2 separate regions of the Homo sapiens genome follow, and region 2 is linked to region 1. Evidence: fine-mapped expression QTL. Tissue or cell type: whole blood. Region 1 holds a variant in brackets; the other region holds the start of a gene. All regions are shown on one strand. Distances are from middle to middle.

Region 1 (7,500 bases):
GGAGGCCAAGGCAGGCATATGACCTGAAGTCAGGAGTTCAAGACCAGCTTTGCCAACATGGTGAAACTCCGTTTCTACTAAAAAATACAAAAATTAGCCTGGGCATGGTGGCGGGTGCCTGTAATCCCAGCTACTCAGGAGGCTAAGGTAGGAGAATCACTTGAAACCAACAGGTGGAGGTTGCGGTGAGCCGAGATGGTGCCATAGCACAACAGCCTGGGTGACAGAGCGAGACTGTCTCAAAACAAAAGAAAAAACAAAAAAAACCCACTTAGGAACTTGACAGTTGCAGGCCGACCCTCAGGCGCTGCATTTTCCTTGACGTAATTGTGCACAGAAAGACCATATTTCCATTTTATACAAACACTTGCAAACAGAGGCATCATAAAACCAAACGGGGGCCCAAGAGGCGTTGCTTTCCTTGGCTTTCCTCATTCTTAGATGATTTGTTTCCCACATTTTTTTCTCAAAAGGAGGAAGTGACCTGTGGCCTAGCAAGTGTCATGGGTCAAACTGTGCTGGTTGCGGGTGGGACTTCACAGTGTCACCACGAGTCATTGCTGCCCTCTCACGTGTCTCAATTTCTCTCTCCGGAGGTCTAAGTGTCTCAATTTCTCTCTCAGGACGTCTAAGTACCTCCAGAAGGGCTCAAAGTGCGGAGTGAGCCACTCTTACATGCGCTTCCTGGACAACCTTTTAAACTAATTTTGTTGGGGGTTTCCTGTAGGACCGTCGCACATCGCAGCGGGTCAACCCCCCGGACACTCCTGCTTGGCCCCCATTCACCCAGGAGCACCTTTCCACTGGGAAAAGCAAAATGTCCTTTCTTTTTGGAGCTGAGGAAACTCAATCTCTCATTTACCTATGAAAACAACAGTTGAGTTCCTCATGCAAATGTGCATACAAGGCAATGGAGAAGACCCTTTAAAATGCACCTCCGAACTAGAATTAGGATCCTAAACAACAACTTCCCAGGGGGAAAAAATCCCAGCCAAGACCACTTCCTATAAACTGTCCTCAGCCACCCCTAACTTTGTAGCTCTCGCCCACCATGATTATAAACGCCAAGCTCAAATCCTCTCATAGCGCAAGGTCATCTCTGGTACCCCCACAAAGCCAAAGAATACAGGTAATGTAGCAGGAGCCAGAGCCTTAGACCCAGAAGGACCTGTCCATGACTCTTGAAACGCCACCAAGAAAACAGAACACCCCAAAAGGGGTGAGTGGTGCCATTGTTCTGAGTTCTTTACAGGATTTGAGTCATTAGACACCTCTAGATTTTTTTCTTGGTACTGAAGTTGGTGAAGGGGAAGGAGGAACAGGGTGGAAGAAAAGTAAGACAGGAAGCAAACATGGAAACCGAGAGCGCGACCGGGAGCGAACGCGGAAACCGAGAGCGCGACGGGGAGCGAACGCGGAAACCGAGAGCGCGACCGGGAGCGAACGCGGAAACCGAGAGCCTGACGGGGAGCGAACGCGGAAACCGAGAGCCTGACGGGGAGCGAACGCGGAAACCGAGAGCCTGACGGGGAGCGAACGCGGAAACCGAGAGCGCGACGGGGAGCGAACGCGGAAACCGAGAGTATGGTTTTGTTTTGGTTTTCTCTTTTGCATCTGTGAGGAATTTTAGGTAATTCAGAAAGTCCTTGTTCCCCATAATTTGGAATTCTCATTCGGATTTGACCAAGGCAGGTAGAGTGGGTCAAATCTAATGGGAGAAAGACCGGAAAACATTTTTTTAAAAAAGATCCCAACAATATGATTACTGAGCACTCTAATGGTAAAGAGAAACTGAGACCAGCTGGTTGTTAATCATAACTTTAGCCAAGACGAAAACCCAATTAAGCTACTTACCTAGGAATGGGTCTCAGGCTGAAGACTGCCATCTTCCATTCTAGAAGCAGGGGAAAACTCAAATTTGCCTTCCCTGTTGAAAGCAGGCTCGAACTCCGGAAAGGAGTTATCTGCCTTCCACCGTCATGGAAGCAGGAAAACTTGCCTTCCTTGTTGGAAGCAAGTAAAACTCCAAAAAAAGGAGTTGTGTTACAAGAAAGGGGTCCCGATCAAGACCCCAAGAGAGGGTTCTTAGATCTCGCACAAGAAAGAATCAGGGCGAGTACATAAAGGGAAATAAATGTTGTTAGGAAAGTAAAGGAATAAAAGCATGGCTACTCCGTAGACAGAGCAGGCCTGAGGGCTGCTGATGGCCCGTTTTTATGGTTACTTTTTGATGATATGCTAAACAAGAGTGTATTATTCATGCCTCCCCTTTTTAGACCATATAGGGTAACTTCCTGACGTTACCATGACATTTGTAAACTCTCATGGTGCTGGTGGGAGTGTAGCAGTGAGGATGACCAGAGGTCACTCTTGTGGTCATCTTGGTTTTGGTGGGTTTTAGCTGGCTTCTTGACTGCAACCTGTTTTTAAATCAGCAAGGTCTTTATGACCTGTATCTTGTGCCAACTTCCTAGTCTCATTCTGTGACTTAGAATGCCTTAACCGTCTGGGAATGCAGCCCAGTAGGTTTCAGCCTCATTTTACCCAGCCCCTATTCAAGGTGGAGTTGCTCTGGTTCACACGCCTCTGACAGTTGCACAGAAAAATAAACTGTAGATCTCAACCAAATTTTGGGAGATCTGGGATTCTCTGGAGGGAGGGAAGCTCCCAGTCTTCAGCAAATTGTCCTATTGGTTTGAGCCGTAAAGAAAGCTCAAGCTGGTACCAATCACTGATAGATTTGTTGAAGGTCAGGGTCACCTCCACTCAGAGTCTTTTTTTTTTTTTTTTTTTTTGTGAGACAGAGTCTCGCTCTGTCGCCCAGGCTGGAGTGCAGTGGCGCAATCTTGGCTCACTGCAAGCGCCACCTCCCAGGTTCACGCCATTCTCCTGCCTCAGCCTCCCGAGTAGCTGGGACAACAGGCGCCCGCCACCACGCCCGGCTTATTTTTTTGTATTTTTAATAGAGACGGGATTTCACTGTGTTAGCCAGGATGGTCTCGATCCCCTGACCTCGTGATCCGCCCGTCTCGGCCTCCCAAAGTGCTGGGATTACAGGCGTGACCCACCGCGCCCGGCCTCAGAGTCCTTTCTGTTGGTTACCAAATTGGTAAACCAAAACGTATCTGAGGCTGGGTGCATGGCTCATACCTGTAATCC[C/G]AACACTTTGGGAGGCTGAGGCAGGTGGATCACCTGAGGTCAGGAGTTCCAGACCAGCCTGGCCAACATGGTGAAACCCCATTTCTACTGAAAATACAAAAATTACCCGAACATGGTGGTGGGTGCCTGTAGTCCCGGCTACTCAGAAGACTGAGGCAGGAGAATCGTTTCAATGGTCTGGAAAGGTGGGACAATTCAAATCGGGAAGGGGGCTTCTAGGTGATAGGTAAATAAGAGACAAAAGTTTGCATTCTTTTGAGTTTCTGATTAGCCTTTAATTGAATACACAATTTATAGGAATAGTCACTTACGCCTTAGTCCAGCTTAGTGAAACAATAGGGCAAAGAAGCCATCAGCTGTGCGTTTGTCTCACCGGAGCAGAGGGAGGACTCTTGAGTTCTGCGTGTCTTTTGTCCACAAGGAATTTTCTGTGGACAAATTTTGAGGGAAGGACATAGCTTTTTTATGTTTGTAGCTATTTTATTTAGGAATAGGATGGGAGGCAGGTTTGCTGATGGAGTTCCCAGCTTGACTTTTCCCGTTGGCTTAGTGATTTTGGGGTCCTGAGATTTATTTTCCTTTCAGTTTCTGTTATTGCAGCCAATCTGTTGGCTCTGTTACCCAGACTGGAGTGCAGTGGCACTATCTCAGCTTAACTGCAGCCTCGACCTTCTGGGCTCCAGCGATCCTCCCACTTCAGCTTGAGTAGCTGGAACCACAGGCAGGCGACACCATGTGATATAGTTAGGCTTTGTGTCCACAACGAAATCTCATCTTGAATTGTACTCCCCATAATCCCCACGTGTCAAGGGAGAGACCAAGTGGAGGTAACTGAGTCATGGGGGTGGCGGTGCCCCCATGCTGCTCTCACGTAGTGCATTTGTTCTCAAGAGATCTGATGGTTTGCAAAGGGCTCTTCCCCCTTTGCTCGGCACTTCTTTCTGCCACCTTATGAAGGTGTCTTGCTTCCCCTTTGATGGCCTCCATGATTATAAGTTTCCTGAGGCCTCCCCAGCCATGTTGAACTGTGAGCCAATTAAATCTCTTTCCTTTATAAATGACCCAGTCTCGGGCAGTACTTTATAGCAGTGTGAAAGCAAACCAATACACCACGCCCGGCTAATTTCTTGATTTTTTGTAGACGGGGTCTCGCTATGTTACCCAGGCTGGTCTCAAACTCCTGAACTCAAGTGATCCTCCCACCTTGGCCTCCCAAAATGTCAGGATTACAGGCATGAGCCACCATGCCCAGCCCCAAAAGGGGCATTTTCTACCATTTAAATAGTGACAGCTCTGCCAGTGACCATGGCTCTTTGTGACAAAAATATTAAACAACATAAAGGAAAAGAAAAAGATGGCTGGGAGGCTTAGTCACAGGCTGAGGGCCTGCCTTGACAGGAGTGTCCTGAGCATCTCCTCACTGGCTCTCTGGGGACTTCCTGGTACATATGGGCCTAAGGTCTCCACCCTACCACAGACCCAACAGCCCACAGCCCCAGGGTTGGCCCCAGGAGTCAGGATGAGTGATGAGGGGGTGGGTAGGGCCATAGCAGCGTCCTGCCTGGAATCTGAACTGTGCACAAATGCACCCAGGCTGCTCCCAAGTGAAGGGGCTCAGCTGCGAGGCTGAAAAGCTGAATGCATTTTTTTTTAATTAAACAGAAGCCTTTTTTCCTTGACTAGGTAATACATATGCATGGGAGGTAATTCCAAAGGAACAAAAAGACGGACATGGAACCTTCTAGCCTGGCCTGAGCCCCAGCCACCAGGGCACCACCCAGAGATAGCCCCTGGGGATCCAGCCATAGATACATTGTACGATACATAGTACTTAATGTACTTTTTTTTTTTTTTTTTTTTTTTGAGATGGAGTGTCTGTCTGTCGCCAGGCTGGATTGCACTGGCCCTATCTCAGCTTACTGCAACCTCCACCTCCCAGGTTCAAGCGATTCTCCTGCCTCAGCCTCCCAAGTAGCTGGGATTACAGACATGTGCCACCATGCCCGGGTAATTTTTGTATTTTTGGTACAAACAGGGTTTTACCATGTTGGCCAGGATGGTCTCGATCTCTTGACCTCGTGATCCACAAACCTCGACCTCCTGAAGTGCTGGGATTACAGGTGTGAGCCACCCCGCCTGGCTTAATGTACTTATTTATTGAAGTCAAAACACAGAATGCCCTGAAAGGGAGCACACAAAACAGATTCAACACCACCATTCAGATCAAGACAGTGATGGTCTCCAGGTCCTGGGAGACTGCCGTGCTGCCTGAGGGCCATTCTCTGGCACGGTGCCCTCTGCCTCATCTGAGCTTTCCATCTGTGGAAGCAGCCATTACTCCTGAGTTTGGCTTCTCTCCCGAAACGTTATGCTTGTGGGACCCATCCATTTGTTTGTGTGCAGCAATGTTTGCTCGTCTCATCTCACAAGTGTGCCACTGTTGAACATACCCACCTCCAGTGTCCATTCTCTTGGGGACATTTGGGTTGTTTTCAGGTTGGAGCTTTCACTGGGTGGAATGGCTCGCGCCTGTAATCCCAGCACTCTTTGGGAGGCTGAGGTGGGTGGATCACAAGGTCAGGAATTCGAGACCAGCCTGGACAACATGGTGAAACCCCATCTCTACTAAAAATACAAAAAATTAGCTGGGTGTGGTGGCGCACGCCTGTAACACCAGCTACTCAGGAGGCTGAGGCAGAAGAACTGCTTGAACCCAGGAGGTGGAAGTTGCAATGAGCCGAGATCGCACCATTGCACTCCACCATGGGCGACATAGCGAGCCTCTGTCCCCCCAAAAATAGAAGTTAAAAAAAAAAAACAGAGAGTTGAATCTCTAAGTTTAAATAAAAGGTTGTATTTGGGTGTAAGAAGTAGGACTGCAATCTGGGACATATAGACAGACCATGGTGGTCTCTGGTATGTCCAAAGAATGAAGGGAAAAGGTTAGGGTTTTATTAGGGAAAGCGTAGGCTACACAGGTTATTTTGAAAGAAAGTATATTGGAGCTGGAAGTGTCTTATAAGAGCTGGTGAGTTTTTATTTTTCATAGTTTTAAAATTAAATTCTTTTTTATAGAGACAGGGTCTCACTATGTTGTCCAGGCTGGTCTCGAACTCCTGGCCTCAAGTGATCCTCCCACTTCAGCCTCTCAGGATGCTGGGATTACTGGCATGAGCCACTGTGCCTGGCTCTGAGCTGGTGAGTTCTGACTGGCAAGTGTTGGTAGTTGCTAGGTAGGACGTGTAGTCTGGGAGTTGGCTAGGCTCCCGCAGTTTTGGATTGGGCTTGTGAGGCCACGTGTCAGGCAAGTGTTCTTGTATAAGCAGCTAGCTGTCCTTGTGTGACTTGTGTAGTGACCTGTGGTTTGGAAACATCTCATGATAGTTCTTATAATCGCGCACATCATACACGGGAGACTTCCCTTCATGCCCTTCCCCAGCTCCATGTAGCCAGGGGATTGTCACAAGTGATCCCGTTTTGAATCGGACAACTTTCACCAGGCTACTATGAGTAACCCTGCTATAAATTTTATTGTATAAATCTTTTTGTGAACATATGCATGCCTTTCTACGGGACACATCCTGACAAGCAGTGCTAAGTCATAGGCTCGGTGTGTGCTCAGGTCTGGCAGATCCTGCCATACATCTCCAAAGTGATTGTCCAGCTCACCACTTTCTTGTTCTTCAAGGTTGTTTTGGCTCTTTTTGGCACTTTGTATTGCCATAAAAATGTGAGAATCAGTTTGTCAATTCCCATAAAAGGTTGGTATTTTGACTGAGATTGCTTTGAATCTGAAGATAAATTTCGAGGTCTCTGATATCTTTACAAGAGTAAGTCTTCCAATCCATATGCCTGGTTTATTCCTCCATTTATTTAGATTTCTCTTGGCAATGTTGTGTAGTTTTCTGTGTAGAGGTCTTACATATTCAATGTTAGATTTATCCCTAGTGCTGATGTTTTCAGTGGTTTGCAAATGACATCATTAAAAAAGTATTTTATAATGGTTTCTGGCTTTTTTTTTTTTTTTGGGATGGAGTCTCACACTGTCGCCCAGGCTGGAGTGCAATGGCGTGGTCTTGGCTCACTGCAACCTCTGCCTCCTGGGTTTAAGCGATTTTCCTGCCTCAGCCTCCCAAGTAGCTGGGATTACAAGCTCCCAACACCATGCCCACCTGATTTTTTGTATTTTTAGTAAAGACGGGATTTCACCATGTTGGCCAGTCTGGTCTGGAACTCCTGACCTCATGATCCGCCTGCCTCAGACTCGCAAAGTGCTGGGATTACAGGCATGAGCCACCACGCCCGGCCAATGGTTTCTTATATATACAAATAGAATTGATT
Region 2 (6,393 bases), 110 kb after region 1:
CCTGTGAGGGACCAGTAGTATGAAGCCACGTGGACGCTCTCCTGGGCAGTGTCCAGCAGCTGCAGCCAGGCCTGGCCCAGAGGCTGGGCAGAGGGGCTGCCGGCTGCAGATGGCAGGTCCTGGGGGATGCTTTCCACAAGGACAAGCCTGTGGGGAGAGCCACACTGGGCTCAGTATGGGTGCGGGAGCCCCCAGCCCACCTCACATCACCTGCCCCATCCCACTGCCAAGCCAGAGCAACCGTTGCTCAGGTGGCCCCCGGGATGAGCCCAGGCCAAGTGTGCAGGGTAAGGGTTTAAGGTATAGGCAACAAAACAGACTGGGCAGGGTGGGCCTGAGCCCAGCATGCTGCTGGGGTGGTGACACCCAGGAGCAATTTGGGAAGGAGCCTGAGAGGGGCTGCCTGGTCCAGAGCAGGCTAGACTGGGGGGTCCTGGCCCCACTCAGCCCTGAGGCACTGCCCACAGGGAGCAGCTGCTCCTGAAGCCGGGCAGAGTAGAGCAGAGCTGTGGAGTCTGGGGTCTGGGGTGGCCTCGTGGTGTGGAAGCCCTTGGTGGTGGCCAGAGCTGGCCTGGAAGGGAAAGGTTGGGCCAGGGGCAGGTAAGCTCCCGTTTCCAGGGGATGTGTGCAGGATGGCCCAACAGGTTCCTCCGGGGCAGTCCTGGGATTCCAGGACCCCAACCGCAGGGAAAGAAGGGTGGGAGGGAAGGATGAGGGGCGGCAGGGGACAGTGACATTACCCCCAGGGGTGGAAGGACTGAGGGGGTGAGCCTCAGCACAGGCAGTGTTCTCCAGCCTGTCAGAGCCCCCAGGTGGCAGCCTCTGTTTGCTGCAAAAAGCACCACACGCCTGCCCCGTCCCCAGCCCCCACTCCAGCTCATATGGTCGTGGCCCTCCCTGGTGACCTGCACCTTCCTGGAGGAGCTGGTAGAGGGCCCCCCTTATCTCACGGGCAGATCCAAGGGCAGAAACACAGGCAGCAGCCCCAAACTGAGACCTGCCCCCGCAGGCCTCCATGGGCTCACTTACTGGCAGGAGTCCCTCTGCTGCCTGGCCTCTGCTTCCAGGGGCTCCCAAGCTGGGCTGGAGCCATGCTCCCAGGACCTGGGCACGTCCTTGGGCTGCACCTGGCCCCAGGTGGGAGGACGGGGCACTTGCCACAGGAGGCAGATAAGAGCCACGGAGCCCAGCCACAGCACAGCCAGCGCTCCCAGGACCTGCAACTGGATGGGGCAGCACCCGCAGGGTCACCAGACAGGGCGGGGCTTGACTTCTGGCTGGGCCACGATGGCCCCTCCAGTGCTGAGACAGAGACCGTCTTGACTTCCCGGACCTGGGCTGCCACTGGGGTGGGACTAGGGTGGACAAGGGAGAGGGGAGGGTGATACAGAGAAGGCCCCCAGCCCAGGGTGGTGGCAGGGGTCAGGGGGCCTGCAGCCCACTCTGCAATGCTGTGGCTCGTGGTAACTGGCTGTCCCCAGCACCTCCAGCAGGGGCATAAAGGGAAGGTCTGGAGCAGCCCAGGGAGGCTTCCCTTGCCCACCAGTCAGGGCACCTCTGCTTGGAGGCCCCCTCAAGGCTGCTTGTGACCTCTCCACTCTGGCTCGGAGCTCTTGAAAGGCCATTGATCCCAGCCACCTCCCCCCTGGGGCCCCCCAGTCCTACCGTGCCAGCCTCTCTGTCCCACGGGCGGCGGGGCGGCATGGAGCATGGCCATGTGGGGGCCACTGCTGCTTTCCAAAGAGGCTTCAGCATCTGCACAGGGCAGCCTGGCATCACCAGCAGCTCCAGCTCTGCCCAGAACTGCCCCTCAGTGCCTGGGCAGCTGGGCACTGGGGACACCCCTGCACAGACACCCACATAAGCCCCCAAAAGCCCCCCACTCATGCCCGAGGTCACGCCCTGGATGTTGGGGGTGTGCTTTCCACGAGGACAAGCCGTGTGGGTGTTGGAGCCCGCAGCCGGCCACATGTCACCTGTCCTGTCCCCCTGGCCAAGCCGGAAGGACTGCTGTTAAGGCGGTCCCCAGGGCTGAGCCTGGGCCAAGCACGAGGGGCGGGCGGGCGTCTGTGCCTAGCCACATGCCCCGGCTTTCTGTGTCTCCCCTTTCAGGGTCTCCCACTCAGTGAGTATCTAGGTATTTGCATCTCAGTTCCCTGTTTCAACCACAACTGAAACTGCGTCTGAAAGGGCTGTTTCTGCTTTTGTCGCTTGGTCCTCTTATTGCTGGCCTATAAATAACTGCTTCCCTCCTGGGCTGGGCTCCTGTCTTGGCCCCACGGCAGCCCCTCCAGAGAGCCACAGGTCAGAGGGGGCAGCTGAGCAGTACCCTTGCTGGAGAGGCTAGGCGTGGAGAGGGCAGAGATGGCGGCAGAGTGGGACCCCTACTGCTGGCAGAGGGGGTTGTCCTCTGCTGCAGGGACTCGCCTTATCTCCTCAGAGTGGTCACCCCACAAGGAGCTGGGAGCCAGGCCATCTGGGCCCTGTGGGATGTGGGCTCCCATCCCCACTCCTACCCCCAAAGCAAGCAGTCAGGCTGCCCCAGGTGCCACCATGGGGGAAGGGTGCCTCACAAGTACAGAGGCGCCCTCCCCGGGTGCAGGGAGGGGTCTGTGCCCAGCATGGTCACCTGGCTGGCCAGCCTCTGACTGAGACATCCACCAGGGCAGGAGCTGGCTGGCCCCTGGCTGGGATGGGGATGTCTCCGAGGTTTGGGGCCTGGGCCTGGGCAGTGCTGAGTGCCAGTGTCTGCAGCCAGGCTGGGCGCTGGGACCCAGGGCTCGGTGGGTCGGCTGTCCACCCAGGAGCAGCCAGCTCAGCCTCCAGGCCTCTGGGGTTCGTCTGGGCTGTCCTCCCACGGGTCAGGGCTGAGGGCTTTGAGAACCTGGCCTGCCTCAGCATGGGGCGGAAATGCCAGGAACACCACAGGAGTCGGGCCTGGACTGAGTCTGCCCTGGAGACCAAGCGTTATGGGGGATTGGGGGTAGGAGCATAAACCAAGTGTGGGGACAGGGGACTCAGGCCAAGTCACTGCGGCCCAACTCCCCCCACGCTGGGGGGTCCTGCAGAGGTGGGTGGGTGCCGCCCCCACCCCAGAGCTGAACTCTGGGGGATGCTCCCCCCACCCCACAGAGGAGACCTCAGGGTGCCCACCGTGTCCCCACTGTCCCCAGGGATTCAGGGCCCAGCATCGGGCCTTTGCTCTCCCCCACTAACTCTCAGAAGAGGAAACATGGAATCCTGGGCTGTGGCTGGTCAATGAGAGGAAACATGGAATCCTGGGCTGTGGCTGGGCAACGAGGTGCCAGGGCTGTTCTTGGACAGCTGCTCCCCACACTCCCTGCCCTCACCAGAGAGGACCTTTGCTCCCTTAAATGCTCCAGGCAGACGGGCAGCTCAGAGCACAGAGGCGCTGCCTCTTGCAGGCCCCATCTCAGACTTGGAGCCTGTCCAAGTCCCCTCCCAGGACTACAGACCCCAGAGCGCCTCACCACCTCCTCCTGCAATGGAACCTGGGAGGACCGCCAGCCAGGTTGGCTCAAGCTGAGAGACCCCTGCAGAGTAGGGCTGTAGCCCCCTGGTCCCATGGTAGATAGCGTAAGACCCTGCAGACATCAGAGGTCATGGCTGAAGGTGCCAGATTTCCTGCCCTGCAGGGCATTAGGCATGGCTGCCAGTCCCAGGCTGAGGTAGAGGGCCCAGCTGTCACCTGGCTGGAGAGCCAGGGCCCAGCTTATCCCAGCTGCACGGACTGGGGACGGAGCGAGTCATCTACAGGACTAGCTGGAGGCTGTGTGACTCTCTGGACCTGGGGTTGCTGGGAGGCTGAGGCCATAGGGAGGCAGACAGCAGCCCTTTCCCCATGCCTGGCTTTTCTCAGCTGCCCTGGCCTCATTGGCACATACCTCTGGGGGTCCTGCCTTGGTGTCTATCCTGATTCCAGCCGCAGACTGCAGGCCCTCAGCTCACGGGGCAGGCTCGGTGCTGCCTGTGCTCCACACCAACCTCCTCTTCTCTGCAGCTCACCTCCTCCTCTCTGCAGCTGGCTCCTTCCCCTTCCAGCTACTTCCTCTTTGTCCTGAGAGGCCCCCTCTCATCTGAGACAGAAACAGACGGCTGGAGCTGGGTGGGCGGGCTAGAGGGTAGGGCTGAGAACCTTCACCTCCAGGAAAAATCTACACCCCACTCCCTCGAGGTAGAGGCCCTCCAGTTGCGGGCCTACGAATCGGAGTCAAGTTCAGCTGCAGGCCACAGACACCTAAGGAACAGTGGCTTCAGCAAGGTTGTTCATTACTCTCGAACACTAAGCAGGTCCAGGGGCTGGCAGGCTAGAGACGGCCTTGCTAGAGATGATGGCATTGCTCCACTGCCATTGGGAGCCAGGCTCTCAGATCCCAGTCCCTAGGATCCCTGCCTTCATGGCCTCACAGTGGCTGCTGGAACTCAGCCATTGCCTCTGTGTTCTTAGCAGAGAATAAGGGACATCCCAGAGGAGACTTCCTGGAAGTCCCACAGGGCACTTCCACTTATCTGTGATCTGGAACTTGATCTAGAACTTAGTCACATGGCTACACTTAGCTGCAAGGGAGGCTGAGCAATGGAGGTAACTAGGGTCTTTATCTTGGAGAACGAAGCTGGGGCTGCTCACTGGCATATCTGAAAAGGTGGGCCTGGCTAGAAGCTCCTAGCAAGGGGCTCTGCCTCCCACTGCCCCACCCCCCGACTGGGGTCCCTGAGTAAGGTCTGGGACCTTGAGAACACTCCTACTTTCAATGAGGTCTGGGTGTCCACCCTGGCTCCTCCTTGTAAGGCCTATGTAGGGCAGGGGTCCAGGGTGATGGCCTCAGGGTGCCTGCAGGACACCAGTCAGGAGGGTGCAGTTCCCAAGGGTGGGGCCTGTCAGCTGCACCCCTGGGGCCAGTCTGGGTGGGCCAGGAAGTGAATGGGGAAGAGATCCATCCTCTCCCTAGCCCCTCCCAGATCTCTCTTCACCTTCCTGATGCTCTGATTTGGCCTTGGGTTCAGCCCTTACCTCCCGGCCATGGTTGGGGAGCCCCAGCCCTCTGGCTGGGTTGCTGGATGCCTGAATGCAGCTGGGCCCCAGGCATGCCCCCGAGGGTTGGGTCCTCCAGGGACTCTGGGTGAGGGTTACTCTGGGTATGGGGAGGGGCAGCCAGGTGGGTCCTGCTGTGACATTTGCAGGGCTGGGGCATGAGTATGAAGGGAGGCTGCCTTCCCTGCACTCAAGCAAAAGGCAGTTAGACAGAACAGGTTCTCTTCTGTCTTTTTTTTTTTCTTTTTCCTTTGAGAGAAGTCTCGCTCTTGTACCCCAGGTTTGAGTGCAACGGCTTTATCTCGGCTCACTGCAACTTCTGCCTCCCGAGTTCATACGATTCTCCTGCCTCTGTCTCCCAAGTAGCTGGGATTAAGGCACGTGCCACCACGCCCGGCTAATTTTTGTATTTTTTATTAGAGACGGGGTTTCACCATGTTGGCCAGGCTGGTCTCGAACTCCTGAACTCAGATGATCCACCCGCCTCGGCCTCCCAAAGTGCTGGGATTACAGGCGTGAACCACAGCGCCCAGTCTCTTCTGTCTGGACAACAATGGTGTGTGAGGGCCTGGAAGGCCAGGGGCAAGTGGAGGACCCCAGGGCTCCTTGGAGCACTCTCAGAAGTCCTTGCAGGAGGGCCAGCCCCAGCCAGTCCCCTCTCCGATTTCCCCACATTGTGAGGGGCCTCAATGAGCCCACATGCTACACCCAGCCCGTGGGTCTGAGCTCATTGCAGCCCCAGAAAAGCACCACGTCACCTCCCCTGGCTGCCCCTCAGGCCAGCAGGACTGGGTACAGCTCAGGCAGCTCTACCTCGGGAGGATGGATCCAGGCTTGGGGATGTTTAAGCAAGGAATCCTGGGCCTTGGGCTCAGGGTTCGGTGGACTGTCCTCTTGGCCTCTCAGGCTGCTTACCCTGGAAGAAAGATTGAGGCTGGAAGGGGCGTCTAGATTCGGGACCCAGGGCAGGCCTCTCAGTGGCTCCGAGGCTGGCTGTGTGGCCAGGAACGACCTGAGGGCAGCTCCTTGCCGGCTCTGCTCCCTGCGCTGCAGGCCCCACCCTGAGGTCTAGGGCCCTTTGGTCCCATGGGGTGTGGGGAGGGACTTTGGGGATTTCCCATGAAGCAAAACTTTTTTTTTTTTTGAGATGGAGTCTTGCTCTGTCGCCCAGGCTGGAGTGTAGTGGCGCCATCTCGGCTCACTGCAAGCTCCGCCTCCCAGGTTCAGGCCATTCTCCTGCCTCAGCCTCCAGAGTAGCTGGGACTACAGGCGCCCGCCACCATGCCCAGCTAATTTTTTGTATTTTTAGTAGAGACGGGGTTTCACCGTGTTAGCCAGGA

What was found. PIP is the estimated chance that this variant, and not a neighbour inherited with it, causes the effect.
Region 2: it holds the start of PLD4, and the variant in region 1 is fine-mapped to the expression of PLD4 in whole blood (TOPMed, PIP above 0.99).

What each region holds. Positions count from the first base shown.
Region 1 is chr14:105,027,545-105,035,044 of GRCh38, reverse strand. LOC124903398 (a long non-coding RNA gene) reads right to left here and starts at 2,188. Exons shown (of 2, transcript XR_007064368.1): 1 at 1,855-2,188. RefSeq lists an enhancer at 934-1,435. The variant C/G (reference allele first, on the strand shown) is at 3,160.
Region 2 is chr14:104,922,503-104,928,895 of GRCh38, reverse strand. It overlaps PLD4 (phospholipase D family member 4), which reads right to left and starts at 4,017. Exons shown (of 11, transcript NM_138790.5): 1 at 3,906-4,017; 2 at 1,666-1,755; 3 at 1,030-1,223; 4 at 1-147. The coding sequence starts at 1,755. RefSeq lists enhancers at 3,183-3,692, 3,675-3,844, 6,239-6,288.